Linked DNA regions of Homo sapiens: region 1 is linked to region 2. The links come from fine-mapping of genetic effects on gene expression. A gene starts in region 2. The other region holds a variant in brackets. All regions are shown on one strand. Distances are from middle to middle. Region 1 has its middle 89 kb from the start of IQSEC1. Region 2 holds the start of CHCHD4 (coiled-coil-helix-coiled-coil-helix domain containing 4).

Evidence for each region. PIP is the estimated chance that this variant, and not a neighbour inherited with it, causes the effect.
Region 1: its variant is fine-mapped to the expression of CHCHD4 in pancreas (GTEx, PIP above 0.99).

Annotation. Positions count from the first base shown.
Region 1 is chr3:13,154,777-13,169,893 of GRCh38, reverse strand. It overlaps a transcript of IQSEC1 not described here. Among named protein-coding and RNA genes, the nearest start is that of IQSEC1, 89 kb to the right of the region's middle. RefSeq lists an enhancer at 8,028-8,553. The variant G/A (reference allele first, on the strand shown) is at 6,159.
Region 2 is chr3:14,116,968-14,132,084 of GRCh38, reverse strand. CHCHD4 (coiled-coil-helix-coiled-coil-helix domain containing 4) reads left to right here and starts at 7,215. Exons shown (of 3, transcript NM_001098502.2): 1 at 7,215-7,430. The coding sequence starts at 7,409. TMEM43 (transmembrane protein 43) reads right to left here and starts at 7,033. Exons shown (of 12, transcript NM_024334.3): 1 at 6,880-7,033; 2 at 2,524-2,673; 3 at 1,129-1,263; 4 at 411-505. The coding sequence starts at 6,891. RefSeq lists enhancers at 6,399-6,688, 6,121-6,855, 6,789-6,988, 6,856-7,590, 8,359-8,458 and 2 more and silencers at 7,179-7,738, 7,749-7,798.

The DNA.
Region 1 (15,117 bases), 960 kb after region 2:
TGCAAATCTCCCAAACTTTTATGCTCTGCTTCCCTTAGAAAACTGAATGCCTTTAACAGCACCCAAGTCACCTCTTGAATGCTTTGCTGCTAAGAAATTTCTTCCACCAGATACCCTAAATCATCTCTCTCAAGTTCAAAGTTCCACAAATCTCTAGAGCAGAGGCAAAATGCTGCCAGTCTCTTTGCTAAAACATTACAAGAGTCACCTTTGCTCCAATTCCCAACAAGTTTCTCATCTCCATCTGAGACCACCTCAGCCTGGACTTTGTTGTCCATATTGCTATCAGCATTTTGGGCAAAGCCATTCAATAAGTCTCTAGGAAGTTCCAAACTTTCCCACATTTTCCTGTCTTCTTCTGAGCCCTCCAAACTGTTCCAACCCGTGTCTGTTACCTGGTTCCAAAGTCGCTTCCACATTTTTGGTGTCTACAGCAGTGCCCCACTCTACTGGTACCAATTTACTGTATTAGTCCATTTTCACACTGCTGATAAAGACATATCTGAGACTGGGAAGAAATAGGTTTAATGGACTTACAGTTCCACATGGCTAGGGAGGCCTCACAATCATAGCAGAAGGCAAGGAGGAGCAAGTCACATCTTACGTGGATGGCGTCAGGCAAAGACAGAGCTTGTGCAGGGAAACTCCCCCTTATAAAATCATCAGATCTCATGGTACTTATTCACTATCACAAGAACAGCATGGGAAAGACCTGCCCCCATGATTTAATTGCCTGCCACTGGGTCCCTCCCACAACACGTGGGAATTCAAGATGAGACTTGGGTGGGGACACACCCAAACCATATCACCCACCCTGAGTTAATTTTTGTATATGGTGAGAGATACATGTTGTTTTAAAAGAATTTTGCAGGAACTCTATAAGGAATATGGTGATAAATAAGACAGATACAGTACCTCCTCTCATGGAGCTGACGTTCTATTAGGAAAGACAGACAATAAGCAAGTAGACAAATAAGACAATTTCAGATTGTCACATGTTCACAGGAGGATGAATGGGGTAATATGGCAGAGAATCTGGGGGGCCAGGGGAGGGCTATTTAGATAGGAGGGATACCAGGAAGGCCTGTCCTAAGAGGTGGTATTTAAAGTAAAATCTGAATTAGAAGATGGAGCCACTGAAATCAAAAGCCAGGGACAGGACAGATCTTCCAGGAAGACGGAACAGCAATGCCCTAGAGCTGGTGTTGGGGAGCTTGGCTGTGTGAGGGCAGAATGAAAGGGTGTGGCTGCAGTGGGGAGCCGAGGGGAAACTGGAACCCTAAGAAGGTGGAGGACTGAGCAGGGCCAGACCTTGCAGTCTTTGTGGGCTGTGTGTGGAGTTTGAATTTTGTTCCAAGGGCAGACTGCTGCAGAGTGAAGGTAGAGGAACCTGATTTGGACTGGGGAGCTGCTGAAGGCCTCATGGATGAGGCCCCTGAGATGTGCTTATGATCCGTGTTAAGTGAGGAAGACGGGCATAGACTGATGTAAACTGTCATTTCCACTGTATAAAAAAATGGACAGGAAACAAAGCCCATAAGCATACATGCAAAAATGTGATAGCGATTACCTCCAGGTGGTAGGATTAGAGATGATTTTTACTTGTTTTTCTTACGCTTTTCTACATCACGCCATATAAGAAAAATAATCGTGGTGATTTGAGAACTTGAATTTGGATCAGTCACAGCACTTAGTTGCAGACAACAGAATCTGCTCTTTCTAGTTTGAGCTAAGGGGGATTTATTTCCATGTATTTTGACTCAGAGTCCAGGACCGAGCTTGGATGTCCCATAGCCAGGAACAACACAACCTGGACCATCACCTAAATCCACCTGACTGTTGCCATGGAAACCCCACTGCCTGTGAGGCTTAAACCTGGAAACTGGAGCCAATTGCTTTGGGAGAACCAGAAGCCTGTGTTCCCTTCCAGCCGGGAGCTCATTTCTCCACCCTGCTGCTCATGCCCACCTTCTCAGTCTGGACAGGCCTCTGCCCAGAGAAGCTGAGAACATTTGCAGAACCAGAGCTGCAAGGGCATCTGGGAAAGGTAGATTTCAGTTTTCCAGAGGTTCAAGTCCAGTGAGCATGGAAGGAGGGGCTGCACACATGGCGAAGGGGGCAGTCTGCAGGTTCCACTGCAGAAGAGGAACCAGAGCGACAAACACTATCACTTGAGCCTTGGCCGTCTGAAGGCCACCTGGAGAAAGGCTTGGTTATCCTCTATGCTCTTGTGAGGACAGCCAGAGACTCTCCTTGTCCGGGGAGCACTGGCTGTCTGAGCCTCTTGCTTTTGCCCCCCCAAGTGCCACCAGGCTGACGTCCACCTGTCAGCACCTCCCCTTCCTTGCCTGGGGGAGCTCCTCGGCCACCTGTGAGGCAGGCTGATGCGTGCAGACTTCTCCTCCCCAGGAGCAGCCTTCAGCCACTCCCAGCTGCTTCGGCCCTGGTATAAGATTGCTGGAGGCAGCTTGAACTGGTTTCTAGGGCTCCCAGGTAAACTGAGCCTCAGCTTCCCACAGTGGTGGATATAGTGAGGTGCTGGGCAGCTTGATAACAGCCATTGTTAGCCCCCTTCTCTTTCTCTTCTCACCTCCCTAGCCCTTCTCTCTTCTCACTTCCCAAATAAACTCCTAGCTGAATCTTTATCTCCAGGTCTGCCTCAGGGACAGCCCATGCAAAAGCATCGGGGATCATCCTGTTCCTAGATCTCAGCTTCATCTGCAGGAACGAGAAGGCTCCAGGATGCTCCTGACCATCTGCTTCTTTGCCCATGCTGAGTGCCGCCATAATCATAGGCACACACACACGCACATACAGGCACACCCACATACAGTGTACCACACACGTACACACATGCACACATGTTTGCACATGCACACACGCACAGGCATCCTCCACCCCGGGGCTGCCCAGCCCCTCTCGCTTTTCTCCCCACATTATTGCTCCTTCGGCCATAGGACGGGCGATGTTATGCCAGGGGCTCCAGGGCATCCTCTGCATGTGCCATCCTTGGTGTAAAAGATGACTCCACTGTGTGTTGCTGTTGGAGTGTGGGTTCTGGGTCAGTGCAGTCCTGGCTTCCCACAGCAGACACTTCCTACAGCCTGCTCAGTGCCAGGCCCCAAGCTGGGCTCCAGTGTGTGGGAGGCACCATCTCCTCCAGATGTTCCTTCCCTGCAGGCCCCCACAGGTCAGCACATCCTCAAACCACACCTCGGGTAGGTGGTGAGAGAAGCAGCTTTATTCATCAGCCTCTGTGCTGGGAATGTACTTATCTCCTCACCACATTTTAGGGGCCAATTGTTGCTATCATCCCTAATCCGCAAATGAGGAAACTGGGGCTCATGGAGATTAAGTGACTACTGAGGCCACCTGGAAGCCAGTAAGGGATGAAGCTGGGCCTGGGACCCAGGAGACTCTGATGGCTCAGGGTCAGTGCTTGTCCCCTGGCGTCCCAGAATGTGGAGCTCCTGGCGTGACTGCACTGCTATGCCTCAGCCACATAACAAGCACTGGAGACCCTGCAGTGAATGTGACAAAACCCTTACCCTTGTGGCATTTTCGTCCTACTGAGGCAGATAGATCCTAAGAGACATAAATAGAGAGCTTCACGTGGTCCTGAGTGAAGGCCACAAGACAGAGATCTGGGATAGAGGCGCAGAGCAGGAACTGTGTGTTAGCTATCAATTACCATGTAACAAGTGACCCCAAAAACGTAGGAGCTGAAGACAGCAAATGCTGATGGTCTTGTGTTCTGTCCTGCTGAATCCATAGTTGGAGTTACCCTAAGAGCAGAGGCAGGGGAGTTTCCTGTAGGAGTGCCCCAAACCTTCCTGAGCTGGAGCCAGTTGTCATTCCGAAGAAAGGATCCCTGAACGCCTGGGTGACCAGTCCACAGCATTTATTAGGGAACTTACACACATAAGCCTGTGGTGTCATTGCCATGGACAGCGAGAAAGGAGCTGCCTACTCAGGCATGTCCGTAAGCGGGGCCCGGTTGCACCCTGTGTTTCTTGGTCAGCGCACAGTGGACCAGGGCACCCTACCTCTCCCTTTCTGAGGTCAGAAATGCAGGAACAGTGTGGCTGGTGGCTCTGCCTCTGGGCCGCTCATGTGATTGCAGTCATGATGTTGCCTGGGGCTGCAGCAGCGAGGGGTGGAAAATCTGCTTCTGGGCTCACACTCATGGTTGGTGGCAGGGGGCTCAGGTCCTCACCACCTGGGCCTCTTCCAGAGGGGCTGCTCACAGAACAGGGCAGCCGGCTTCCCCAGGGTGAGCAACCTAAGATGGCGATGAAGTGAAGACAGACAGACACACACACACACACACACACACACACACACACACACACACACGCCACCCCCCCACCCCCCACCCCCCCGCTTGCTTTCTTTTCTGTCCTGGCTATGATCAAATGGAAAACAAAAACAAAAAATAAGAACTTTCAAAAGCTGCTCCTGGGATCTCCTCTCCCCATCATCAGGCTTCCTGGGAATTCTGTGGAGGGTCTTCAGCCACCAGGGGCTGGTCTGCACCTTGTCCCATGGCCCCCGGGGTCAAGGAGATGCCACAGGTGTCTGTGCGCCATTCCCATCTCACATCACCACTTCACCTGCTGCCGTGGGGACCATGTGATCCAAGTTGCTGTGCATTGATGCTGAATTAGAATTGCTGGAGAGGGAGACCAAGGTCCTTCTAGAACAAGGGGTGTGCACTCAGGCACCTGGAGCACACATTGCTGGGGACTACCTGCCTTCTGTCTCATTTGCTACTGGTGAGCGCGACCAGGCTGGGCAGCACCAAGGGAGGCCGGGTCTGAATCTGTGGGCAAGCTTGGTTCAGTGGGAAAGGCATCCCCTGGGGCTTTCTATGCTGAAGGGTCGTGCAGCATGTGCTCTGACTTCCGTTCTGGAACGTTACTGAAAAGGCAATGAACAAAAAGACAAATCTCTGACTCTGGGTTAAGTAAGTTTTTATTTCTCTAGCTCTCTGGCAATAAAATCCAATTTGGGACATCCAGGGATTAGATTCCTGAATGTGTTTGCTCAAAGCCCTTTGCTCCTTCAGACCCAGGAAGCCCAAGCGAGGCTTTAGCCATCAGCTGCATGGAGTTTAATCCCAAAGTCCCTTTCCTTTGGTGTACAGAGCAGGAAGGCATCACTGTCAATACCGCGTAGTCACAGTCTTCGTGAAAGTTCAAGTGCGCAATACAATCTGATTGTCCAATTTCTTGACATTCAAGGTTGTCTCCTTTGTAATATGGTTGTAATTGATTTCTGAGTACTTGAAAATAGAGCTGGTTCTGGGGAAATAACACTGGAAATACCAAGTAGGGGATGCAGTGAGGCCAGTCGCACCGCTCTCACTTATTCATTCATTCATTCATTCACTCATTCATTCATTTAGTTGCTGCCCAGGTCAGAGTTCTGGAACCATAGACCCCTCCTCTGGCTTTGCTCTTGACTCCTGGGGTGTATTCAAATCCTGGGAAAACAATTGCAGTCAAGGTGATGGAAACAGGAAGAGGGTGGGAAAGGAACCCTAAGACTTCTAAGAAGAGTGGACTTTCTGAATACAGTTCCAGGTCAAAGGAACAGCAGCAAGAGACCCCGGAGGATTGGGCCTGCGGATGTCTGCTGAGGCTGGGGAGGGGATGCTGGGAGCAGCTGGGGCCTCAGGGTCCCCACATCTAGTGTCGTTGTGCAGGTCTCCCGGAGCAGAGGGTTCTGGGCTCTAAGCGTGTGCTCTTCTCGTTGCAGGTCTGAAGGAGAAAGCTCGCGGAGCGTCAGGTATGTGCTTCATCCACCTCTGTCCGTGTGTCTGAATCCTGGCGGTGAGCGGCGTTGATGAAACCATGTGCTTTGATTTCTCCCTGCGGGTCTCCCAGGTCAGACCTCTCCTCCCCTGGCTGCCCCCTTCAGCCCTGGCGTGTGCCCCAAGGGCCTGGGCATGATCTGCAGAGCACGTCTGTTGGCTCTGCATCCTGGAGCAAAAGCCCTTCCCAGCTTCCCTGTGTTTAGAGTGACCTCTGCAGAGATCACCTAGGTTGGTGGTTGTCCCTTCCTTTCTGGGGCTGGTGATGGCCCAGTGTGCCAAGGCTGTGACCCGTCTAGGACCAGAAACTTCTATACCTGACACCCCTGGGGCTGGGCTGGGC[G/A]GGGTCAGGGCAAGTCTAAGATGCTTGGTGGTGGGCCCGGCTCTAACCAGCCTCTAACAATGCAGGGGTGTCTCCACGGCAGGCGTAATGCCCCTGCCCATCCTCGCCCCACCAACCGAGGGTAGGTGGGGGTGGACATGGAGTGGGCTTTCTGCCAGAGGCTCTGACTGAACCTAGAAGAGGGTCTGGTCTGAGACAGTACCTGGGGTGTCAGTGCCCCAGCCACGGGGCCTGAGGCCCAGCAGTTCTCAAGGCATGAGCTGGGGGACCAAGAAGGCCATGGTCATGGGAGATGGGGGTCAGCATGGTGAGGCTGGGGATGCGAAGGAGAGGCCAGGAGGCAGTTAAGAGCCCACGGACCCCCAGTCCCCTCTGGCAGCAGATGGACTTCCAGGTCTTAGGGTGGTGGCCTGAGGTGGCTGGTTTGTATTGTGATGTTACAGGCTGGGGAGATGAGATGTCCTGAGCTTGGCCGTGAGGATGCCAGCTGGAGTGGGGTCCTCCAGGTGCCTGCAGAACAAGAGACAGATCTGGGGGAGGCTGCATCCCAGGGAGCCTCTTGGGTGGCAGCACAGGGGGTGCTGAATCTTATACTTGGGGCAGTCGGCTATGTGCTTGGAGCAGGGGACACTGGCAGGGAGTTGGGCTCCAGGGAACCAGAGTCCAGGGAGTGAGAGGCAGGGTCTCGCAGGAAGCAGAGGCATGCTCAGAAGGGGAACTGGAGAGAGAGAGGGTCCCAGAAGGACTGTGTGCAGGGGTGAAGCCCAGGTGAGGGGACTAGCTGGGGATGGTGCACTTGGGCTGGCAAGAGTGGGAGCTAAAGGGATAAGGGGGGGATGCCCGGGGGGATGGATGGACAAAGGCTAGGGTCTGGGGATCCGAGGGAGGGGGCAGCAGGCCCCTTGCAGCCTGAGGTGTGCACCGCCACATGGCTCCACCCTGGAACACAGCGTGGCCCTGAGGAGGAGGAGGGGAGACTGCCCTGGTGCACGATGGAGAAAGCTCTGGAATGTACCATTAAGTGAGCAAAGCAGGGTGTGAGAGTACACATCTCACACTACTTTGGGTAAGAAAGGGCAGGTGTAAGTACGTATATTCTTATTTAATTTGTCAGCAAAAAGAAGCAGGAAGGAAACAGTTGTCTCTTAAAATGGTCCCTTCAGAGGGAGGGCAAGGGGCAGGGCCTCCAGTGCCTGTATGCTTCCTCAGGGCAGACCTAGGAATATTCCTGAGGGTTCTGAACCCTGTCAATGTAATACTTGTTCAAACAATTAATTCAAAACAACAGGTTAGGGAGAGGGTGGGTTGCCAATCCCTGGGGCTGGCTCTGAGGTGGAAGGGGATTCCCACATGGACTCGGAGGGGCTGCAGGCTCAGGAAGGAGATGGCCTCGCAGCCTCTCAGGCCCTCCCTGGCCTGCCTCTCTGGGCTCCTTTGGGATCTAAGCTTCCCCCAATCCCCCCAAGGTGCCCTTCTCCCTCTGTCTTCCAAGAAGGCAGCTGCTTACCTGAAACCCTCATTCTGTGAAAGTTCATGGTGGGCAGCGGGTCCCTTACGGGGTCGCCCTGAGAACAGCCTGCTCTCACTGGTGACCTGAGCGGGGGCTAGTGAACATGTAGAGTGAATACACCCTCGTGGTGGGGATCTGGTCTGCCCCAGCCCCACCCGGCCTGGTGTTCACTCCAGCGGATCATCAGGAAAGCATTTGCCAGGCAGGCGCTGTGGAACCCAGCCCTGGGGGAGGAGGATGGGAACGACATTTCGGTGGGGGAACAGCATGTGCAGGGACCCCAGGAGTGAGCATGACTGGCTGCCTGGGGAGAATGAGGAATGGCCTCTGCGTTGCAGGGGGACTGGCACACAGAGCCGAGCATATGTCCCAGCTCCGAGCCACACAGCTCCCAGCAGGGTGCACAGACAGGAGAAGCCGGGCAAGGGAGATCGCGGATGGAAGTTCCAGCAGGGAAGGCTGTGTTTAGTTCTTCCAGGGCTGAAGAATCCAGCCCCAAAATGCCCTGCCGTGTGGACATCGCAGTAGACAGTGTTGCTGAGGCTAAGATGCTGGGGTCAGATGTGACTCGTCATGGCTTTACCTGCCCTGGCCCGTTGTCCCCATCATGCACAGGCATTGTGTTTCTTCCCATGCAGCTGACGACTTGGCTGCCAGGCCTATGTCATGGGTCACACCCTTCCCCCAGGAGCTGGGCCTCCCTTTTCTCAGGACCAGAGGTCCCAGATCATTCAGATCTACCCTGCCCCCACCCTCTGGACAGAGAGTCACCAGATCTGGGCTTCCAGAGCAGTGTCCGTGCGGGGTCTGCGTCCCCAAACCTGGGATCCTGACTGCAGTTCTCTCTGAGCGCTTCTACCCTCTCCAGACCCGCTAGAGGGGAGGTTGGAAAACTAAAGTGTGACCACGGCCCTCCCCCGCTTCTCCTCCCGCACTCCCCCTGGGCTGACACACTGTGGCAGTGGCCCTGGTGGTCCCTGGACGCCACACCCCTACCAGCGCAGCTGCGCTTCCACAGCCTTCCCATGCGCACCTCCAGCTCCCACCAAATGATGCCACTCGCCTTTCTAAATGCGGCCCATGATTCCTGCGTGCCTGCCCCCTGCTGTGTGTGACTCAGGATGTTTCCTATGTTTAGAAAATGCTCCACTCCACCCCCCGAAGATCCCTTCCTTTCTCAGAGCCCCCATGGCAGCTGCCTTTCTGGAGCTTTCAGGGGAGCTGGGGCTGACAGGGTGGCCTCCTGGTTGTCTCTGTGGCCTTTTATGCTTCACTTTTGATATCCCAGTCCCTTCTGCTTTGTGTCCAAATGACTTAAGCATTTGTCTTTCCTCTCAGGCAGAGGAAGACCCCCAGGACAGGGATGAGGCCCCTGAGTTGTGGCTCGATGGTGCCAGCACCTGTGGGGCACAGAACAGGCACCCAGGGGGTGTCTGTGCAGTGGATTCATCTTGGCCTTGCTGGGAGCCCTGGGCAGGATGCCTTGCACAGAACAGGCACATGTTCATGTGTGTTTGATTGGACTCAGGACTCATAAATATTTTCAGGCCAGAAACCAGAAGGAAGAGGAAAAATGGACCACTCCCATGCTCAGTGGAGACTGCCCCCGCAACACCCTCCCCTTACCAAACACTCACTAAAATTAATGGGCAGAGATTCTGCACTTGAAAAATCAGTGAAGCTGTGTATGGATTTTATTTGCCTAAGGAAAATATGACTGACCTTGAGAGCTCATGGCTTGTGCTAAATATTAAGGACACACAGGGGCAGGGCTTGGGGGCTCACACTTGTAATCCCAGCACTTTGGGAGGCCAAGGCAGGAAGATCATTTGAGGCCAGGAGTCCAAGACTAGCCTGGGCAACATAGCCGGACCCCGTCTCTACCAAAAATAAATTTAAAAAATTAAGGATAGCCCTGAGAGACACCTCCTCCCCACCAGCTCTTGCCCTGCCCCAAGGTCCCTGCTTGGTGAGATTCTTGTTCTTTAGACTCAAATGATCGGAGTTGCCACCTTTCTGGTTTGCTTTTCTTAGCCTCCGGAGCAGCAGGGAAGTGCTTTTGCATGGAGAAGCCTGTTTGTGAATTCACGCTCACTACTTTCCCCTGAGGCAAAACATTTGCAAGATCAGATATATTCATTTTCCACAAATGAAATGACTCATTTTTTGACCATTTTGCAAATGTAGGACTTTGCTCATTGTTCCCCGGGAGGATGTGTCTGCTTTTGACTCCACTAAGAGGAAGGCTCTGGAGGCCCTCAAATGTGAATCTTCTAATGATTTATTTATGGAAGAGGGACCATAGGAAGAGAAGAGGTTTGTGGAGTTTGGAGTCTGCAAAAATGAATGACCGGGTGGAGGGTCTAGAGAGAATGTGGATACTGGTTTGAAAGTGCCAGGGCTTTCTGCAGGGTGCAAGCATTATCTTTTTTCCCCCAGCACTCCGTCAAATCCTTGAAATTAACTCAGCTACATTCAGTCATAGGAATAAGTTCCATTCAATGAGTTCTCACTGTGGGTGGGGGTCTCACCTCATCTGCACAACCACCCGCACCCTTGTAAGAGAGTTATTATTGGCCCTTATTTTTTCAGCTCTGGGAAATTGAGGCTGAGAAGTACAAAACAGCTTGCCTAGGATGACGTGGATTTCGAGTGCAAAGGTGGGATGCTGTGCACCAAAGCCTTCGCAAGTCAGTGTCGCCTGTGGTGCTTGTTGAAAATACAGATTGCCAGGCCCTATCCCTTTCATGCCTCACTCAGTAGGTCTGGGCAGGGTCTGGGAATCTACATTTTTTTGAGATGGGGTCTTGTTCTTGTTGTCCAGGCTGGAGTGCAGTGACGTGATCTCGGCTCACTGTAACCTTCACTTCCCAGGTTCAAGCGATTCTCCTGCTTCAGCCTCCCGAGAAGCTGGGATTGCAGGTGTCTGCCACCAGGCCCAGCTAATTTTTATATTTTTAGTAGAAACAGGTTTCACCATGTTGGCCAGGCTGGTCTCAAACTCCTGACCTCAAGTAATCCGCTTGCCTCAACCTCCCAAAGTGTTGGGATTACAGGGTGAGTCACTGTGCCCAGCCTGAATCTGCATTTTAAATAAGCGCCCACATGATCTTAACAGGCTGCCTGAACATATGGTCTCTCCAAGGAAACAGAATTTCTCCAAGTATGCCAGTGTCCAGTGGCAGACACGTACCCTTCATAAGCATGAGCTGACTGAAGTGCAGAAATTTTGCTTCTAACACTTAGAAGAATTTTTTTTTTTTTGAGACCGAGTCCTACTCTGTCACCCAGGCTGGAATGCAGTGGTGTGATCTCAGCTCACTGCAACCTCCGCCTCCTGGGTTCCAGCGATTCTCGTGCCTCAGCCTCCTGAGTGGCTGGGACTACAGGCGCACACCACCACGCTTGGCTAATTTTTGTATTTTTAGTAGAGACAGGGTTTTGTCATGATGCCCAGGCTGAACTTGAACTCCTGGGCTCAAGTGATCTGCCTGTCTCGGACTCCTAAAGTGCTGGGATTACCACGCCCAGCCCTGACCTTAGAAGCATATTGCATGAGGTGGTCCCATGTAGGTCGCCTCCCCGTCAGGACTCTGAACGTTGACTGGCATTTTCCAAAGGCAACAGCAAGGCTCAGGGCTGGGACAATGAGGAGAGCCCAAGGACTGTTTTGTTTGGGGATGGTGGGGGAGATTCTGGAGACGGTGGGCCTGGTTACCAGCATTGACTCAGCTGGAACCAAGATGTGTGAGTAAACGTAATTAGTCCAAACAAATCCAGTTTTCTGTCTCCATACCAAGGCAAAGCAGCCTTTGTAATTAACTGGGCCTTTTTCCCCAAACCCAAAATGAGAACACACAGTTTATTTTGTTCACAAGGAGGTATGAAAACTGCTGAACGTGGCAGACAAAGCTGGGAGTGTTTGCTGTGCCAGGTAGACAGAGCTGAACTCTTTCTCTCCAGGAAGGAATGGGAGCAGGCTCCAAATGTGAGAGACGGGCTGGGGCTGGGCCGGGTCCCTCTGCCGCTATCCAGCCATGTTTTGGAGGTGCTGGACTGAGGGCTGAGCCGGCGGCCTCTGGAGGCGAGTGGACATTTCTTAGCACGGTGGAATCAAAAGAGTACAGACACTGGGGGCAGATAATCTTGAATTCAAATCCTTTCTCTTTGTCTTACCCTCATGTCACTATGCAACAGCCCCTGAGCTCTCCAAGCCTCAGATTTCACACTCATTTAACAGTCTTCATTGAGCACCTACTGTGTCTTTGTGCTAACTACTAAGGGTGTGAAGACCAATGAGATACAGTTAATTTCTGCCCCATGATGAAATCGGAGCAAAGACTTTAGCCTCAAGGCCATGGACCAATTAAATGAGGCATAGATGGAACAGCACATGCCATGTCATAGCATTCAGTTAACATCCATTTCCTTTCTTCTCCCTCTGCCACAGTCTGTGGAGACGCGGCTGCTCAGAATCCTGAGGGAGGGTCTGAGGCAAGCCCATGTTTACATGAGCAGGAGGTGGTAGCAGCTGCTTGTAGAGTGTGCCCTTTTGGCTGTCCTCCTTCCTTCCTTTGCTCCCCTGGGTTTATGATTGAGATTTCTTGGGCATTCTTGACTGTGGTGGACTTTACTTTTCCATCTCCTTGACTCTGTGCTGTATCCTGAGCAATTTCCTCAGGATGGTCTTCTAGTTCACTAGTGCTTTCTTCAGCTGTGTTCATTCTGCTGTGTGGCCTATGAATTGTGGGTCCCTGAGACCCTTGAATGGCCTCTGGATACCCTCAGCCTGCTTTCAGAGGCACTACTGGGCCTTTCTTTACACGGGAAGTAGAAAGATCTTATAGGAGCCACATTGAAGTCACTGGGCAAAAACCTATCTGACTGGGTGTATTTTGCGTTTTGATTTGTTTTCTGTGAACTTGTGTAGAGAATTAATAACTGACTGTTTAGAAGATGAGGCAGAGATATTGGTGTGGGGGCAAGGGAGTCTACTAATGGGGAATTAGACTAAATCCCAAAATACATTTGGTAAGCCTTGTCTAAACATCTGCTTCTATTGCAACCAAATCTTAAAGGTACTTAGAAGGTGGTGACACAATGTGTATGTGTGCATCTGACCCAGGTCCAGTGTTTGGGACAGTGAGGACTTTGAAACCAGGGTCTAAGCTGAATGACCTTGGTCAAATGACTCAAATTCCCTGAGCCTCAGTGTCCTTATCTCAAATGGAAATGAAAACATCAAGAGTTTTCTTGATCTTGTCCACATCTGACTCTCCATTCTCTCCTCCATCACTGTGGTCATCACACTCTGGCCTTCTGGTACCTCCATTCTTCCAAGCTCATTAGTGTCCCAGGGCCTTTGCCTGTGCTGTTCCCTCAGCCTAGAACATGCTCCCCCAGGTCTCACCCAAGATGAGTTCTCCTCAGTCCAATCCCCCTTCAGATGTCAGCTCCTCTTCCCTTATCATCTCACCTGAAGTAACCTAGCCAATCTCTGCACATCAGCCAGTTTACTTCTGTCCCTTATCTGCCTGTCCCCACTGGAATGTCAGCAGGAACTTTGTCTTATGCAGTGCTGTGCCTCAGTGCTCTGCCATGTGCCCTGGCACAGCATGCTATTTTGGTCTCTGTACTTGCCACTTCCCACATCCAAGGGGAGCACCTCTGGAAGGAGGCCAGAGCTAAATGTGCTAAGCTTGTCTGTCCACATGCCTGAATGCTCCCACTTCTGTCCCTCCATCATGCACTTCTTTCTCTTTCCTAATTGCCTATCTAGGACTTCCAATACTATGTTGAGCCCAAATGACAAAAATGACATCCTTGTCTTGTTCCTGATCTTAGCTAAAAAGCTTTCAGTCTTTCACTGCTGAGTATGATGTTAGCTGTGGATTTTTTGTATATGGTCTTCATTATGTTGAGGTAGTTTCTTTCCATTCCTATTTTGTTTAGTGTTTTTATTTTATTTATTTTATTTTTAATTTTTATTTTTTTGGGACGGAGTCTCGCTCTATCACCTAGGCTAGAGTGCAGCAGTGCAGTTTCAGCTCACTGCAACCTCTGCCTCCCAGGTTCAAGCAATTCTCCTGCCTCAGCCTCCTGAGTAGCTGGGATTACAGGTGTGCACCACCATGCCCAGCTACTTTTTTTTTTTTTTTTTTGTATTTTTAGTAGAGACGGAGTTTCTACATGTTGGGCAGACTGGTCTTGAACTCCTGACCTCAGGTAATCCACCCGCATTGGCCTCCCAAAGTGCTGGGATTACAGGCATGAGCCACCACACAGCCTTGTTTAGTGTTTTTATTATGAAAAAGTGTTGAATTTTGTCAAGTATGTTTTCTGCACCAATTAAGATGGCCATGTGTTTTTTTTCCTCTTAATTCTGGTATGCATTACAGTGAACAGTTTTTGGATGTTGAGCCATCCTTGCATTCCAGGAATAAATTCCACTTAGTCATGCTGCAGAATTCTTTTATTGGGCTACTGAATTTTGTTGCTGATATTTGCTGAGGATTTTTGCATCAATGTTCATAAGAGGTATTAGTGTGTTGTTTTCTTGTAATGTCTTTGTTTAGCTCTGGTACAAGACAATGCTGGCCTCACAGAATGATGTAGGAAGCACTCCCTACTTGAAGTTTTTGGAAGAGTTGGAGAAGGTTTGTTGTGATTTCTTCTGGAAATGTTTGGTAGAATTCATCAGTTGAAGCCATCAGGTCCAGGGCTTTTCATTGTCAGGAGGTGTTTGATTACTAATTCAGTCTCCTTATTAGTTATGAGTCCATTCAGATTTTTTATTTCTTTGTAATTCAGTCTCAGTAGGTTTGGTGTTTCTAGGAATTTGAATCATCTAGGTTATATGATTTCTTGTACAATTACTTACAGGACTCTCATATAATCCTTATATTTCTACAAAATCAGTAATAAAATTCTAACTTTCACTTCTGATTTTAGTTGAGTCTTTTTATTCTTGGTCAATCTAAGTGGTGAATCGTCAATTTTGTCAATCTTCTGGGAGAACCAACTTTTGTTTGGATTTATTATTGTTATTTGTTTACTGTTATTATTTATTGATATTATCAGTTTATCTCTGCTATAATCTTTATTATTTTCTTTTGCTGCCAGCATTGGGTTTACTTTGTTTGTTTCTTACTAGTTCCTTAAGTTGTAAAGTTATTTTGTTGATTTAAGATCTTCCTTTTTATTTAACGTATCAAGCTATAAATTTCCTCCTTAGTACTACTTTCGCTGTGTTCCATAAGCTTTGCTATGTTGTGTTTTTTTTCTTCTCCTCTAAGTACTTTCTAATTGTCCTTGTGATTTCTCTTTTGACCTATTGGTCTTTCTCTTTTGACCTATTGGTCTTTAAGAGGGTGTTGTTTAACTTATATAACTTTGTGAATTTTTAGGTTTTTCCTCTATTGTTGATTTCTTACTTCATCCCACTGTGGT
Region 2 (15,117 bases):
GGGACTCCTGTCAGAAACGATAAGCTGTAAGTAGAGCAAAGATGGGACCAACACAGCTGATGGGAAGGCTGAACACAGAGAGATGCAGTGGGGTCTCGGGGTTGACATGCTGATCCTAATGACAGTGTTTCAGGCCTGCTCCAAGTCATGCTTCAAGCTTGTGCATCTCTGGAACTTCCCAGATGTGGGAGCAACTCAATCCCCCTTTCCTCCTGGAGCCACTCTTCACTGGATTTTTGCCACTTCCAAATCACTGGCTATTAATTTGGGGATCATTTCACACTTTTCTGATAGGAAGATGTTATACTTGAGTTTCAAAGGTATCAAAATGAAAGACATCTGCATGTTATCCTGACACCTACACTTCACTCCTCCTTTACCCCAACAGAGTTTTCACCCCAACAGCTCACCTGGACTCCTCAGTTTCTACCCATTGGTACATCTCCACGTGCCTCCGCAGTTTCACAGCCGGAAGATGGACCCCATAGTTTGGATCAGACAAAAGCTTCAAACAGAATCAAAGAAACCAAAAAAATAAAGGATAACATTCACGTCAGCCCAGAAAGCCTGGCTCAGGGGAAGCTGGACTGGAAGAGGAAGAAATAGAGAAGGGGACAAGGGTGGAGAGCCCTACACTGCTTTGCAGGGGAGAATCGAGGACACTCCCTGTCCCAGGTTCTTTACACACAGTGCCTGTGACTGTGACCCTCACAGTACAGGCCTGGGCTGCATGGCCCAATGGCATGGTGCCAACAGCGTACAGGGTGTTCAAATAACAGGAAAGCTCTGGTGCCCAGGGTAGTTTTGTGGCCTTGCACTGGACACACATGGTCATCAGAGTCATGAGAGCACCTCCCTGAGTGCCAGCCACTGTACCAAGGCGTTAGTTACCTAATCTCACCAAATCCTCAAGGCTGGCCACAAGCTTGTAACCATTACCGTCCCCATTTTATACACGAAGACACTGAGACTCAGGATAGACAAGTCCACACAGCTGCTGAGTGGTAAAGTCGGGAATCACTCCCATGTGTGACCATCTCCAAGGCCCATGCTTTCAAATCCTCAGCCAGACAACATCCAGGATGAGCCCCGAGCCACTGGCAGGTCAGCATCCCCTGCCAAACCTACCTTGGATGTCCGTAAGGCGCCAATGATGTGCACCAGCCTTCCTTCATTCTCCGGAGCCACACTGTGGATGCTGTCGGGAGACACCACAAGCGAGAGCCCCTCAGCCAATGAGGTTGCCGTCTTCAATGCGCGGCCCTGGGAGCAAAGGGGAGTGGGGATTTCAACAGCTCAGGGGTGGCTCAGCATGACTGTGCTTGTTGCAAAGTATTAGGGTAGGATGGGGCCTCCGGGAGCGCTGAGACCCATCTCCCCACCGTACAGTTGGAAAACTGAGGTCTAGCAAGTGGAGAGTAAGGACTGGAACCCAGATTCCTGCTTTCCCAGGGAGACTTCTTCCTACTGCCCCATTGGTTCCCACTAGCCCCCACCAATCTTAGCACTGCCCCAGTGGTGGGAACAGCTGATGTTTCTGCCTGCCTGTCCCTTTCTCCCCATTTTTCTCTGCCTTCTTTTTTTTAATTTTATTTTTATGTTTAAGTTTTTTGTAGAAATGGGGTCTTGCTATGTTGCCCAGGCTGCTTTCGAACTTCTGACCTCAAGCGATCCTGCCTCCTTGGCCTCCCAAAGTGCTGGGGTTACAGGCTTGAGCCTCCATGCCTGGCTCTCCTCTCTCCTACTCAGCCCATGTGGTTTACCTGAGTCTATCTGAACCCTGGTCAGATTATGGGACCCAGACCTTGCCAGTCAGAACATGTGAGTGCGCCCTGGACACGGAGACTGATTCAGAGGACGGAGAGCCAAGCCAGGACACTGAGAGATGGCCCTGTAACTGCTGCTAAATTGATTTAGAAATATACTGTTGCATCATGAGGCCCTATTAAAAAAAAGGAGAAAAAGAAAGAGAGAGGGAGAGAAAGAAAGAAACAAACAAACAAGAAAGAGAGAAAGAGAGAGACAAAGGAAGGAAGGAAGAAAGGAACAAAGGAAGGGAGGGAGGGAGGGAGGGGAAAGAAAGGAAAAGAAAGAAAGGAAGAGAAACAGATGGTTTTTCTCTTCCCTGGGCTAAGTGGTTGGATGTAGGCCAGTTGCTGGGGCCACATTTGCCATCACAGATGAAGTGCCTGCCCAAGAAAAACACCATAATAGAGAAAAACAGGCAAAAGATGAAGAAATGGAGATTCCTGGTGACCCAGCATGAACACCTGGATCCAACTACGCCTGAGGCAGGTGCTAACCCCTGGATATTCAGGTGTGTGAACTGATCTACTCCCCTTCCTGCTCACATCAGCTGTGGGATGGATCACAATGGAAAGAACTGTGATTAACTCAGTATCCTCCTTTCTCTTTTTAAAATCTAGGCCCTTGATTACCAAATCCAGCCTCCGGGTTCATCGCCTTTGCTCTCTGACATGGTGGGGACTCTCACTCTGCACAGGAAGACCCCAGACATTTTACCTCATTGGTGAAAATTAGGTAGAAGGAGAGCAGGAAGGCCATGAGCCCCACAAACATCCCACCCGAGGTCTCGCTCAGCCGTTCCAGGAAGCCTGGCTGGGAGCTGGTTTTAACTTTGACATGTTCTCTCCGGGTACTGGTACTGGAATACTGAAGAAAAAGAAACAGTAACAGAATGAAAACTAGTTTTTAAAAATAAATTAAATTTGCTATTTATTTATACTCAATTTTTTTTTTTTTTTTTTTTTTTTTTTAGTTTTAACTGTATGTGGTAAAAACACACAGATATTCAATGTACAGTTTGGCAGGTTTCCACAAACGTATATTCCATCTGACCAACATCTAAAGCAAGGTACAAAATATTTCCATCACCCCAAAAAGTTTCTTTGTGCCCCTTTCCTGCCAATTCTCCCCCTCTCCACCAACCAGAGGTAACTGGTGGGGATGGGGAGAATCTGAATTTGAATTTCTCCTACCGTAGATTAGTTTGTTTCTTCTACAACTTGAGAAAAATGGAATCAGGGCACCAACTCCTTTCTGCCCAGCTTCTTGGACTCAGAGCACTGCTTTTGCAATTCATTCATGTTGTGGTGTTTATCAGGAATTTGTTCCTTTTCATGGCTGAGTAGTATTCCATTTATGACTATACCACAGTGTGCTGAATCATTCGTCAGTGGATGGGTATCTTGACAGCTTCCAGGTTTTGGCTGTTATGAATAATGCTGCTGTGAATATTCATACATGAACCTTTATGCAGACATGTGCTTTCATTTCCCGTAGGAATATACCTAGGAGTACAACTGCTGGCTCGTGAAGAAGATGTACGTTTAACTTTTTATGAAACTGCCAAGCTATTTTACAAAGAGGTTATTAGAGATGTATTTTTAATTAAATTCAGCAAACAGTGGCTGAGCTTTCTGAGGGCAGTGCTAGCCCTTGTGGGGTCAGAAGTAGACAGTCTTAGGGCAGTGAGGTCACAACCATAAACAATACTAGAAGGTCACACAGAGGGTCCTGTGATGGGGGTGGACTTGGTGCTCAAGGAGTGACCCCTTCCACCTGGGGTATCAAGGAGGCTCCCTTGAGTGGAATCTTAGAGGCAGATCTTAGGGGAAGAGCATCCCTAAAGGGAGAACCGTATCAGCAGTGATGAGGAAGTAGGAAGTGGTTCTGGGGGAGCAGCTGCCTGTCTGCTTTGGCTGGGTGGGAGCAGTGGAGGAAGAAAGGGCTTGGAGGTAGGCATTTCTGGGCAGGTTCACAGTGGGCCTCAAACTCAAGGGTGAGTGGATCAGGCTTTGGTCAATAACAGAGGCATGATTTGGGGTGCATCCACTGCTGATCAAAAGTGTCATCGTCTAGGGCAGGATTCTGGAGCCAGAAGAACTGGGTTTGCATTTATGCTCTGCCACATACCAGCTACGGGGTCTTGGGCAAGCAACTTCACCACTTTGTGCCTTCCATTTCCTCTGTGCATAGGGTTGTGGTGAGAACCAAAGAACACAGTTATTGGGTAGCTCAGGGCCTAGGGCGTGGTAAGCACTGGACACGTGTTAGCTAGTAGAAATGTTACCAGATTTCCCTACAACTGATACTGGGCTGGCACCAGGCTGGGGGTGAGCTGACAAAAGTCACAAAGATGTAAAGTGGGGCCCAGCTAAGACAGGCCCCATCCTGGTATTGGGGGCCAGAGGAGTGATTTGACTCAGAATCTCTGCTTGAACAAAGCTGATGTCGCATTCTGATTGTCTTTGAGTACCACCAGCCAAGGCCTCCAGTGACCAGATGTCCATGAATCCAGAAGTCGTCTTGACTTTCCATGCCATTTGGAAACATTAGGTGAGTGAATCACCACATAGGGGCAGGTGACCATCACAATGATGACAATGGCAAACACACCGGGTCTATCACAGGCCAGCCCACAGGCAAGCCCAAAGAGCGGGATGTCATAACGACCCCATTTCACCGATAAGAAAATCGGGCTCAGGGTTACGTCATCTTCCCAGATCACACAGCTTCTAAGAGGAAGAGTTAGGATTCAAATCCGGGCAGACTGGAGGCTACTCTCCCATTACTCATTCCAGTCTGTGCTCCCCATCTCTTGGGCTACAATGTGAGCTGAATGTTGGGAGCCAGCTGCAGGCAGCAATAGGAAAATAAGGCGTGTCTTCCTCTTGGGCCTCCCCTCAGCCAGCATCAAGATAAGGGGCTCAAAGACGGCCTTGGAGGGAAGGAAGAGAGGTACAGGAGGGTGCCCCTCAGGCTAGGGGAGGGGTGAGGTGGGCAGTGACATGACAAACCCAGCCCACATTCTGAACCAAAATTCCCAGTAAACATGGAGGATCATAAAGGATCTATATATCCACACATATTTATATATACATATAGTATGTATTACATGTATACACACATTATATAAACACACACACACACGCACACACAGACGGACATCCCCAGTGACACATCCCCTCCCAGTCCTAGCACTCAGGACTTAGAAGAAATGAGCAATGAGTGGTGGGAACAGAGGCTGACACATAGGCCCTGGAAATGGACAGAACTGGATTTGATGCCTAGGTTCACCAATCGCTTGCTGTGTAAGCCTGGGTAAATTGCTCTACCTCTCTGATTCTGTTTACTCACTTATAAAGTGGAGAGGGGAATAGTACCTTCACCACAGGTACTGCTGCTGCTGTACTGATTGAGAATTTTGTTGCCTCCCTGCTCCATCCCGCTATCTTCTTCCTCACCCAGCCTAGTGGCTGCTGTAAATGTGTACTCAGCTACTGGATGAATCAAAAAATGCTTGGCAGCAGAGAATACTCAAATGCATGTATATTCCTTGGTGAGGGGTCAGGTCTCAATGTACCCAAGATGATCTCTATCCACTGGGACCATTTGTGCTACCCTGCAAGGACAGGCTTGTTTTCAAGTATTAAGTACCTACCACACATCAGGCACTGTGCTAAGCAGTCTCCCTTAAATATCACAGTAACTGATCCATGAGGCTACATAAACCTGGAGAGATGAAAGCCACACAGCTACTGGGTGGAAGAATCTGGATTGCCCCCAGGTCTCCCTAACTCCAAAGCCTGCCCTTTTCAGCATATTTCCGTGTCACAGCATGCCAAGCCGGCCACGAGAGCTTGGGCAAGTGCCTTCCCCTGCTAGGGAAGTTCCCCATCTGTAAAATATGGTGGTGGTAGTGATGGGAGCAGACAAAGAGTCCACATACTACAGACAGGCTGGTCTCCTGACTGCCCTCTCGCCTGGCCGAGCCTGAGTCTCTCCGAATACCTCTGAGGCTTTTCTAGGTACAACATTCAAGGCTTCTAACCCTCCTGTGGGCCCGAAATGTCCTGGGAGTGTGGATGATACTAACCCGAGACAAAGTGTACTAGGGCTGTGGGTGATGCACACCCTGGCCTCTCAAGGGGTGTGGGAGGCAGAGAGGACGCTTGGGGACAGAGGCGGTGTCTGGAAATAGGGTGTGACAGGCAAGGGGAGAGCTGCTAGGACACTCTACCAAAGCAGGAGGGAGGGTGTGTCTGGGGCTGGCTGGGCTCCTAAGCGGGCCCTAGAAGCACTTTCACAGAGGAGGGGAGAGGTGAGTCACCAGCTTCTCCCACACCCAGCGCCCTGGTAGGAGGCGCTGCTTGTTGAATGAATGTTGGGCTTAAATAGTTTCCCGAGAAAGGCTAGTTGCAGGGAGAAGAGGCCTTGAGGGAACAGCCCTCAGCCAGGCCTCCTCCAACCAAATCCTTGCTAGGGGGAGGAGGGGCCCCGACAGTAGAGAAATGCTCCCTCTCCCCCAACTCCTTCGCTCCCAGCCCAGCCTAAGCTTTTTGGAGCATCACAGACTCGGTTTACAGAGACTCCCTAGGGCGGAGAGCTCTCTGCCCGCCTGGACAGCCCTGTCTGTCCATTGCTGGACAGCTCCACTTGGGCTGGATCGCCTTCCTCCCTCCCAAGGGACTGGCGCCCTCTCTGAGGTCGCGTCCAGCTCTCATAATGCGCAAGTTTCAGGGCCCCAAGGTACAGGAGGGAACTGGGAATGCAAGGAGGGGCCGCGGAGAGGCGTACAAGCAGATCCCAGTACGGGAGCAACACCTCCGAGTCCGCCTCCGCACGAACGCCGAGGACGAGGCGAGCCAAGGAACACGGACAAAAGAAGCCTGGACAGGCCGCGAGATGAGCAGAGGGATGAGCTGGCGAAGGCACAGACACGGCGAGCAGAGGGAGATGCGGGCCTAGCCGCACGGAGGAGCTCCAGGCGGCGAAATGGACCTAGAGGACCCCGGGGAAAAGCCCCAGGGCGACGGGGAAGCCTGGGTGTGGCCCGGCTGGCCCGGGGATACTCACATTCGCGGCCATGGTGGGACCCGGCTCGCTGCCGCCGCCTCGCGCTGTTCAGCTAGGAAGTGGGCTGACGACTGGAGCGTGGTGTCCAGCGGCCTCTTGCCAGCCCCAGCTTCGAAAATCCGCGTGGACTCCAGGGCCAAGCGGGACTTACTGCAGTTACCTCCCCCTGTGCCCAGTGTTTCTGCGCATGCGCGCGGCGAGACGTCCTGGAAACTATACGGTCCGGGACATTGCAGTACCTCATTGATGCGCCTGCGCACTGCAAAGCTTTCGGGGAAATGTAGTTTCTACTGCCTGGAGAGCTGTCGAGGAGCGCGCGACCTGCTGGGAAATGTAGTTTCCGGCTGAGGTTGGCCTGGCCGCGGTTGCGAGGGCGCCGAGGCAGGCGCGCGGCGGGCAGGCCTGGGAGGGGGCGGGTCCGCGCGGGCTTCGGAGGAGCCCGCCCTGCCAGAGGAGAGGGAGGTCACGGCGTAAAGGTGCAGCTGCCGCCACCGCCGCTTCTGCAAGGTCTCAGGGACGGGCTGCAGCCATGTCCTATTGCCGGCAGGAAGGTAGGGAGGGCGGGCTGCCACGGAGACCGGCCTACGAGGGCCTGCGGGAGACACGCGGGCCCCGGCGCCCCGCGACCACGCCGGGCGCGGGCCACCTGAGGCGCGGCCCAGGTGCCCACCCTGGGACACTCGGAGGCGGGCCGGCTGGGGGGTCGCTACTCCTGTTTTGCGGATGAGAAAACCGAAGCTCTGGGGGGAACGGGGCTGGTCCAAGGTCACAGTGAAGCCCGAACCCTGACCTCAGAGGGGCCTGTGCGTAGGAAGTCGTAAACTAGGTCCGGTTGGGGCACGGGAAGTGCCGAGCACGTTGCGTGTGGCTCGAAACTGGGAATGTATGGTGGTTAATTATCACTACCGCTCCTGCCATACCCCACGTGTTTACATTTTGCACGCGCCTTTAAAAGGCGCGTCCCGAAAAGTTGCCACTCGGGGTAGCGTGTGCTGTGCTGGAGTGCTAGGAGTTCCACTAACGGGAATGTTTTTGAGCCCCCTGCTACCTGTCAGGCACTGTTCAAGGAAACTTGCCTGGCTTGTCTCACAGATCTCGCTGCGACCTTTGTAAGTCAGGCTCTGTTGTTGGTCACATTTTACTGAAGAGTAAAGTTAGACACAGGAGACATGGCTAAAGCCACTCAGCCAGCAAATCGTGGAGCTGGGGTTTGAGCCTGGGCATTGTGACCCCAGAAGAGCCTTATCCAATCTAGTGCCCAGTGGATTGCAGGGAGAACCCTGCCTACCTCCCACCCCAAAGTTGAGCTCCGACCACCTACTGCTTCCTTGATGTTACTCTACCCAAGAGCTCAGAAGTACCCGAGCCACAGGTCGGAGGGCCTCCCCACACACTGCCACAAACTGGCTCCTTGGCCCTGAGCTCCCACCTAACCCCTCCAGGCCCTGGTATCCAGTGTTGTAAAATGAGATGTTGGGCTTCATTGATACGGCAAATACTCATGAAGCACCTTCTCTGCGCCAGAGAAGGGGGATGGATGGTTATAAAACTACAGAGAGAGTTGGAAGTCCCCCAGAAATTCTTTGGTGAATACTCCAGCTCCGTCAGTTAATTCAAGCAATCTGAAGCCCAGAGAAGGAGGTGGCCTACCTGTAGTTACACATCCAGTTAGGAGACTAGCTCAGCCTAAAATTCTGAGCCTTTTCCCTGGTGGCGCTGTCTGCTTCTAGAACCTCTCCTCCTCTGGGTCGTAAAGCCATAAGACTCACTCTTTAATGAGTACTATTATATTTCCGCTGATTACTACTTAATGTGTGCCATAAGCAAAAGTCCTCTGCCCTCACCACTCTTGTTTTTAATTTCGAGTCTTTCTCTAATTTACTTCATTTAGCAAATAATTTTTGAGCCTTTGGGTATAATGAGGCTGTGCTGATAAACAAGACCCTCCTCTTTGAGGATTTACAGGAGGCAGTTTTCTCTGGAAAGGGGAGGCTAGGTCCATCTGCCTCCAAAACATGGAGCCCTATCTTTTCCTGCTTCAAAGATCTCTCTTAGTTCGGAGAGGAGTGAGAATTGAAAGCACTCACTTATAGGCCTTCCTTAGTATTTATCTTGTGCATACCACTGTCCCCGTAAGAAGTCCCTAACTTCCCCCCCTCCGCCCCCCACTGATCCTTTATGCTTCCCATAGGATTTTTAAAAAATGATCCCAAACTGCTTACTGTATCAGAGCTTATGTGATCTGGCCCTGTCTGCCTTTCCAGCCTGGTCTCTTCCCACCCTTTTGCTGCCCAGCCTCTAGCCTCTTGGCTATTCCCTTGGTTTGGTATATCCTGCCTTCAGCTCTTCCGTGGCTGACTCCTCATCCTTTAACATTTAGCTCCAATATCACCTCCTGACCCTTTGTGTCTTTCACATCCTGAACTGTCTGAAATGACCTTTTTTATTTTTTGCCATCTTACTTCCTGCCTGTCTTCTCGCACTAAGCTGAGAGCATCAGATGGGCTGTGGAATCCCCAGCATCTAGCACAGGGCTTGGTGTACAATGGGTGCCCACATCTTTATTGAATCATGCATTTACCTGCCCTCTGTTCTGAGTGAATCACTTGCCTGTACAAGTTTATTTCAGGGGTCCACCTGCTACCCAGCCTTCAGGTTAAACTCGTTGGTTTGGCATTCAAGGGCTCTCAGCCTCGCACCTGGGCCTTGGGCTAGCCACACTTCTCCTGTGTCAGCACCATAGTGTTTCTTTCTTAGTTTCCTCTTTCTAATGCAGAGCCTGCCAACTCCTGTTCAGTCAACAATTATAGAGCACACGTGATGTGCCAGCCATTGGGCATATAGTGGTGAGCAAGGTGACACATTCTCTGCCCTCCTGGCATGGTGGAACAGATTGCCATTAAAACATCACCAGACAAATGCATGATTACAGACTGTCATAGGTGACATGAAGGAAAAGCCCAGCATGCTATGATCGTTTAGTGAAAGGCTCTATGGGGTCTGAGAAGGCTTCCTGAGGCTTCAGACATCCTTTTAAATGCCACTTTCTTAAGAAAACCTTTTGCAATCCTAAACACGTGTGAGCGAACACTACTTAAAACCCTCCTTTTGCCCTCCAGGCTTTGCCCAGGATGGTTCCTTCTGGAATGTCTATTCCCCTCCTTCCCTCCCTGAAGCTCTTTGTCAGGGACAAAGGTAGGATCCCTCCCCTTCCGTCTTCTCCACTGGATGCCTGTGTCGTATTCATCTGTGACCACCAGGTACTACCACAGAGCTGGAGCTGAGGAAGGTTTGTTGAGCTAAACTTCTAACACTTGCATTCTTCTTAACACTCTGTCTGAAAGCCATTTGTGTATTCTTCACAGACACTTGATTCTGTATGGGGGAGTTGTATCTTTCAAAGGGGTTAGATTCTAAACATGAAAGTCCTTAGCAGTCAGATTTATCAAACTCTTAGAAACCCCTTACCTCACTCAAAATACACCACAGGCACCACTCCCTCTGGCTTTAGATCTCTTTCTTGGGTTGAGCTTCAGAAAGTAGTGGTTGGAATTGTATCACAGGTGTATTGAATCAACTTAGCCAAAAACGAAAGAAAATAAGTCCTTAGTGCAGGTTGCCATTCTCAAACATGACCCTGGGGAGTCAGCATCCATGGGAGACAATAAACTGCTTCCTCTGCAGGACACAGGGGCATTCCTTCTGGGGTGGATGAGCTGAGAGATTCTGGTGTATAAAGATCCTCCCCTTTCATGGGGGAAATCAAACTACTCATCCAAGGGATTTTTTGGTCTCACTCACTTAATGGTGATAACCATTCTGTCTTCCTGCTTTCTGCTGGGACTGGGTGACAGAGCAGGAGTAGCGTCATCTCGGACAAACACTGGCACATTAAGTTCCAGCTCCCTTTCTAGCCTCATGCATTTCAAGGAAGTCACTTCTCTTCTAACTACAAGCAGCCAGAAAGAGCAGACAGTAAAACACAGACAAGACAGCTGGGACACAGAGGGAGGTGGGGGGAAAGTCTCTTGGGTGACTGCCAAACTTCACCCTCATACAATGGGCCCCAGTAAAACTGTGGGCCTTAATAAGCACATTCCTTTCCCTTCAGGTGTACTAAGATAGGGAAGCTAAAAGCAGTCTTGGGGGGATATGCCTGCAGCTGCAGAAAGATGTATGGAAACAGACACACCAGTCTGCCTCCCAGATAAGCACAACAAAGAGACACAGAAGCAGTCCAAGCCACTGATAAGCTCTCCCACCCTGAATCCTTAAAAACTCTTAGTCTGTAAGAGAGTGTGGCTCTGACCTAACTCAGCCAGCAGCCCCTCTCAGGTTTGTTTAAAATAAACCTGTCCCTGTTGACTGAAAAGCCACCCTTCGTGTTTCTCTCCTCTTTAATTCTTACACTTGGGTCTTCAAGCCCTAATCCAGAGTTGTTTCTCCATTCATTTTTTTCAACAAATATTGAACACCCACTTTGTCCTTGGTACTATTCTGGGCTCTCAGGATACTGCAATGAACAGAATAGACAAAAATCACTGCCTCTGAGGAGCTGACATTCCAGTGGGGGCATCAAGTGGTAAACATACATAGTATGTTGGGTGACGAAAAGCACTTTGGAGAAAGATAAAGCGGGATAAGGGAGATGGGCAGTGGTCAGGGACGGTGGCATCTGAGCAGGAGGTGAAAGCAGGGAGAAATCGCTGTGAGGGTACCTGAGGGAAGGGAAGGTGCTCCTGGAGGACAGAACACCCTGTGCAAAGGCCAGAGGTAGGCATGTGCTCAGCACATTCAAGTAAAAGCAGAGGCCAGCGTGGCTGGAGTGCAGGGAGTGATGGTGGGAGATGGGGTCGAAGAGGTGAGGGATGCAGCTCTTTCTGGATGTATTTGAAGATCGAGCCATTCCAATTTGCTGTTGGAGATGTGAGAGAAAGACGGGTTGGGGTGGCTCTACCGAGAGTAAAACTAAACAGCTGGGGGTGGAAGGTGTCTTTGTATCTGACTGCTCACTCAGTTCTGTTCTCAGCCCCACCCTGAAGTCCTGCACTCAGAGTAACCCCTCGGGCCTCCAGTTCCCCACTCTGACCAAGGTTCTGGGGTGGGGACTGAGTTGATTCTGGATGACCTCCTCCTTGTGCACTTTGAGTTCAGCTTTCTTCACTGGTTAAGTCAGAGAGCACTCGACCATCAGCTCTCCCATTTCCAAAACATTATTGACATCTCTGAGCCTGTGATTGTCTCTTTTCCTGGCCATGCTATCCTTGATGCCCTTTAAAAATTGCTGTCAAGTGGGATTCCAGCTGACAGCAGAAACTCATTTCACCTCCCCAACCACGTGAGGTAGGTAGGTGGAGCTGGTGGTAAGGCCTGGTTTCTGAGGCCCAGATGGTACCTGAGCTCATACAGTGGGAAGTGCTTAAGCCCAGATTTGAACTCCAGTTCTCAGACTCTCTGTGATATTGAAATATTGAAGCCACTGTGCACCAGAGGGTTTAAGGTAGTTTTCCACCTCCTTCAGAACATGCATATTCAACTGCTTTTAAAGCTTATCTTAGAAATAAAAACACAAGCACTTTTAAATTTTATTTCTCTAGAGAAATTGCTGACAAATGTCATGAGAACTACTAGTCTAGCTGATTGTCCCACTAGTTGGCATCTTACGACTAGTCTGACCAGTCCTTTCTTTCACAGTTAGGTCTGTTAGGAATAGGTAAGCCTTGTCCTTGCATCAGTCCTTGAATCGACTTTTAAAAGTTCCAGAAAGCAAAGGCCCTCTAGGACAGGCATACAATGGACAGTTTGTAGGGGACATACTCCAGATCTTTCAGACCAGAGTTCCTGTTCCTGTTCTGCCTTCATTTACTGCATGTCTTTTGGTCTGTTTCTCAGATCCTGTGGTCTCTGTAAAATGGAGATAAAGTAATACCCACCAGTGAACTCACAGATGTAATAAAACACATTGCATGGGACAAAAATGTGTAAAAGATACAGCTGTTACTGTTCTACTTTCGATCCAGTGTGAACTGTGCTGCAAGGGAAAATGTCCAGGAAGGCACATGTGAGGACCTGGCCCAGTGGGAGGGACCTGGAATTCTCAGTGGGATTGTGCTAGGCTGGTGTTTCCTAACCTGGCTGTGTATCACAGTCACCTGTGAAGCCCGTGAGCTACATGGACATGGCAGAGAGCTCGATTCAGCTTTTCTTGGGTGAGGCCTGGTCTCTCTATGTATGGCAAACCCCAGGAGGGCCTCATACTTTACCACGTTTGGACCCTTTGCTTTCTGTGCCTGTGACTGGGCCTCCCCGTTGGGCTGCGCTGAGCTGCCATCTCGGTAAACAAAACTGCCAGAGCTGAGTTGCGAAATTTGCATCAGCTCATTCTGCTTAGCGTTCAACATTTTTACAGATTGCTTTTGAGTATTTTGGAAACTGGCCAGAATAGTAGAATCAAGGTTACTAGGTACTTTAACAAGTCCTGGCTGCCTGGTCCAAAAGCTTTCCCCAGTCAGCCACAGGGGAAAAGCAGCCTTCTGTTGGATGACATGCAAGGTATTGAGGCAGAGGCCAGCTCTGGGAGCAAAAGCCTCCAGTGGGTTGGGGGTCCTGGCCCCGTGTGCTGAGGGTTTTTTGTTGTTACTCTGTTCTAGTGTAAGAGACCCTGTGCAGTGTGGGCATGGCGTAAGGCACCAAAGTGCCCTCCCTCTGTCCCCTGAACTGTCCTTCTCACTGGAGATGTCGCTCGGTTTTTGTTGTCACTGCCCCCTTCCTTCCAGAAGCCTCTTCCTTAATTACTTCAGCCCAAGCATGGGCCCAAACCTTTTTCCTTGCTTTCCCCTCAGCATAGCTGTGACTGAACTTTTCTAAATATAAACAAAAAGTATAAAGTGATCAGAGATGCCCGCAGCTTTCACAGGGCCACGTTTCTGCAGGTCCGGCCTCTGCGCCCACAGTGGCCACTCACTCAGAGCCATGCACTGTGGCTCTCTGCCAGGCACTTTTGGCCATACCTGAAGAAGTCTTCTTAAATGCTTGGCACCTCCTATCCCCTTCCAGATGAGGGTCCCAGTACCCCAGATCTTCTAGGATCAGAATGCATGGTCAGTTGGTCTGTAGAATTTGTCATTCACCTTCACCAGGAAAGTACAAGAAAGATCTTGTTTGTTTACTTGGCAAACATTTCACTTGGTTCTAAGCTTTTTGGGGCCGAGGTTGGGTCAGAATTTATTGTATTTATTCATTGCCCAAGGTGCACAAGCTCTCAGGCAGTGCCCAGTCATGCTAAGTGCTCAGTGTCAGCTGTCGATTATTCTTGTGCAAATGTTGGTGCGGGGCAGTATGGGTGTGTAGAAAGGATCTCCAACAGTGTAGACTTCAGAGCATCCTGTCCTGTGTGGCCCAGCAAGTTACTACTCACAGCCTCAGGCTCACCACCATTAAAAGGGGATGCTGCTACCTCCCTCTCAGGGTGGCGATAGGATGGAGGAATGAGCTCACACGGAGGACCAAAAGATGGACTGGCTCTGTCTGTTCTCTGGGGACAGCTGGAGAAACTGATGACCCACCGTGCAGTGTGGGGTACTGAGGACAAGGTGCTCCTTGCCCACAATGGGAATATCTGACACATACCTGTGGTGTGGTTAGCTGATGGCCAAAGTTTTTAGGGAGGTGAGGTAAAGTGTTGACAGCTACAAGGTGTAGCAGAGAGGGCTGTAAGGACCTCCCTTCTGCTTAACTCAGCCTTGGTTTTCTGTTGTACTCCATGGGGGCTGAGGGTGATAATACTTCATAGGGGGTCACTCTAAGGCAGTGAATGCACCCACCCTGGTTTGGCCAGGACTGATGTGCTTTTCTGTGCTCACCCAGCCTCCAGTGAGGAGAAGCTCCTAATATAAAATGCATTTGACTCTCACTGGTCTGTTTTCCTGGAGCCCTCAGACCTTCCGGCAGCCAGGCCCCAGGGTGAGGGCTCTGGTTGTGAACAAGGTGCTCTGCACTTTAGGCCTGCTGGCTTTCCCATGCTGGTCCTCACAGGACCACAGTCCTGACCCTAACCACTGTTGGGTTTGTCCTAAAAAAATAAACTGCAGATGGTCACAGTTAAAAAGATCTGAGAAGTGCTCCTCCCACTGCCCCCCTCCAGTTATTATACTTGTTGGGAAATGGTCCCCCGGCCTCTTGGACTGTGGGGAGTGGAACGGCTGCAGTGTTCCTCACCTTATGACCCTTCCTTCTTCC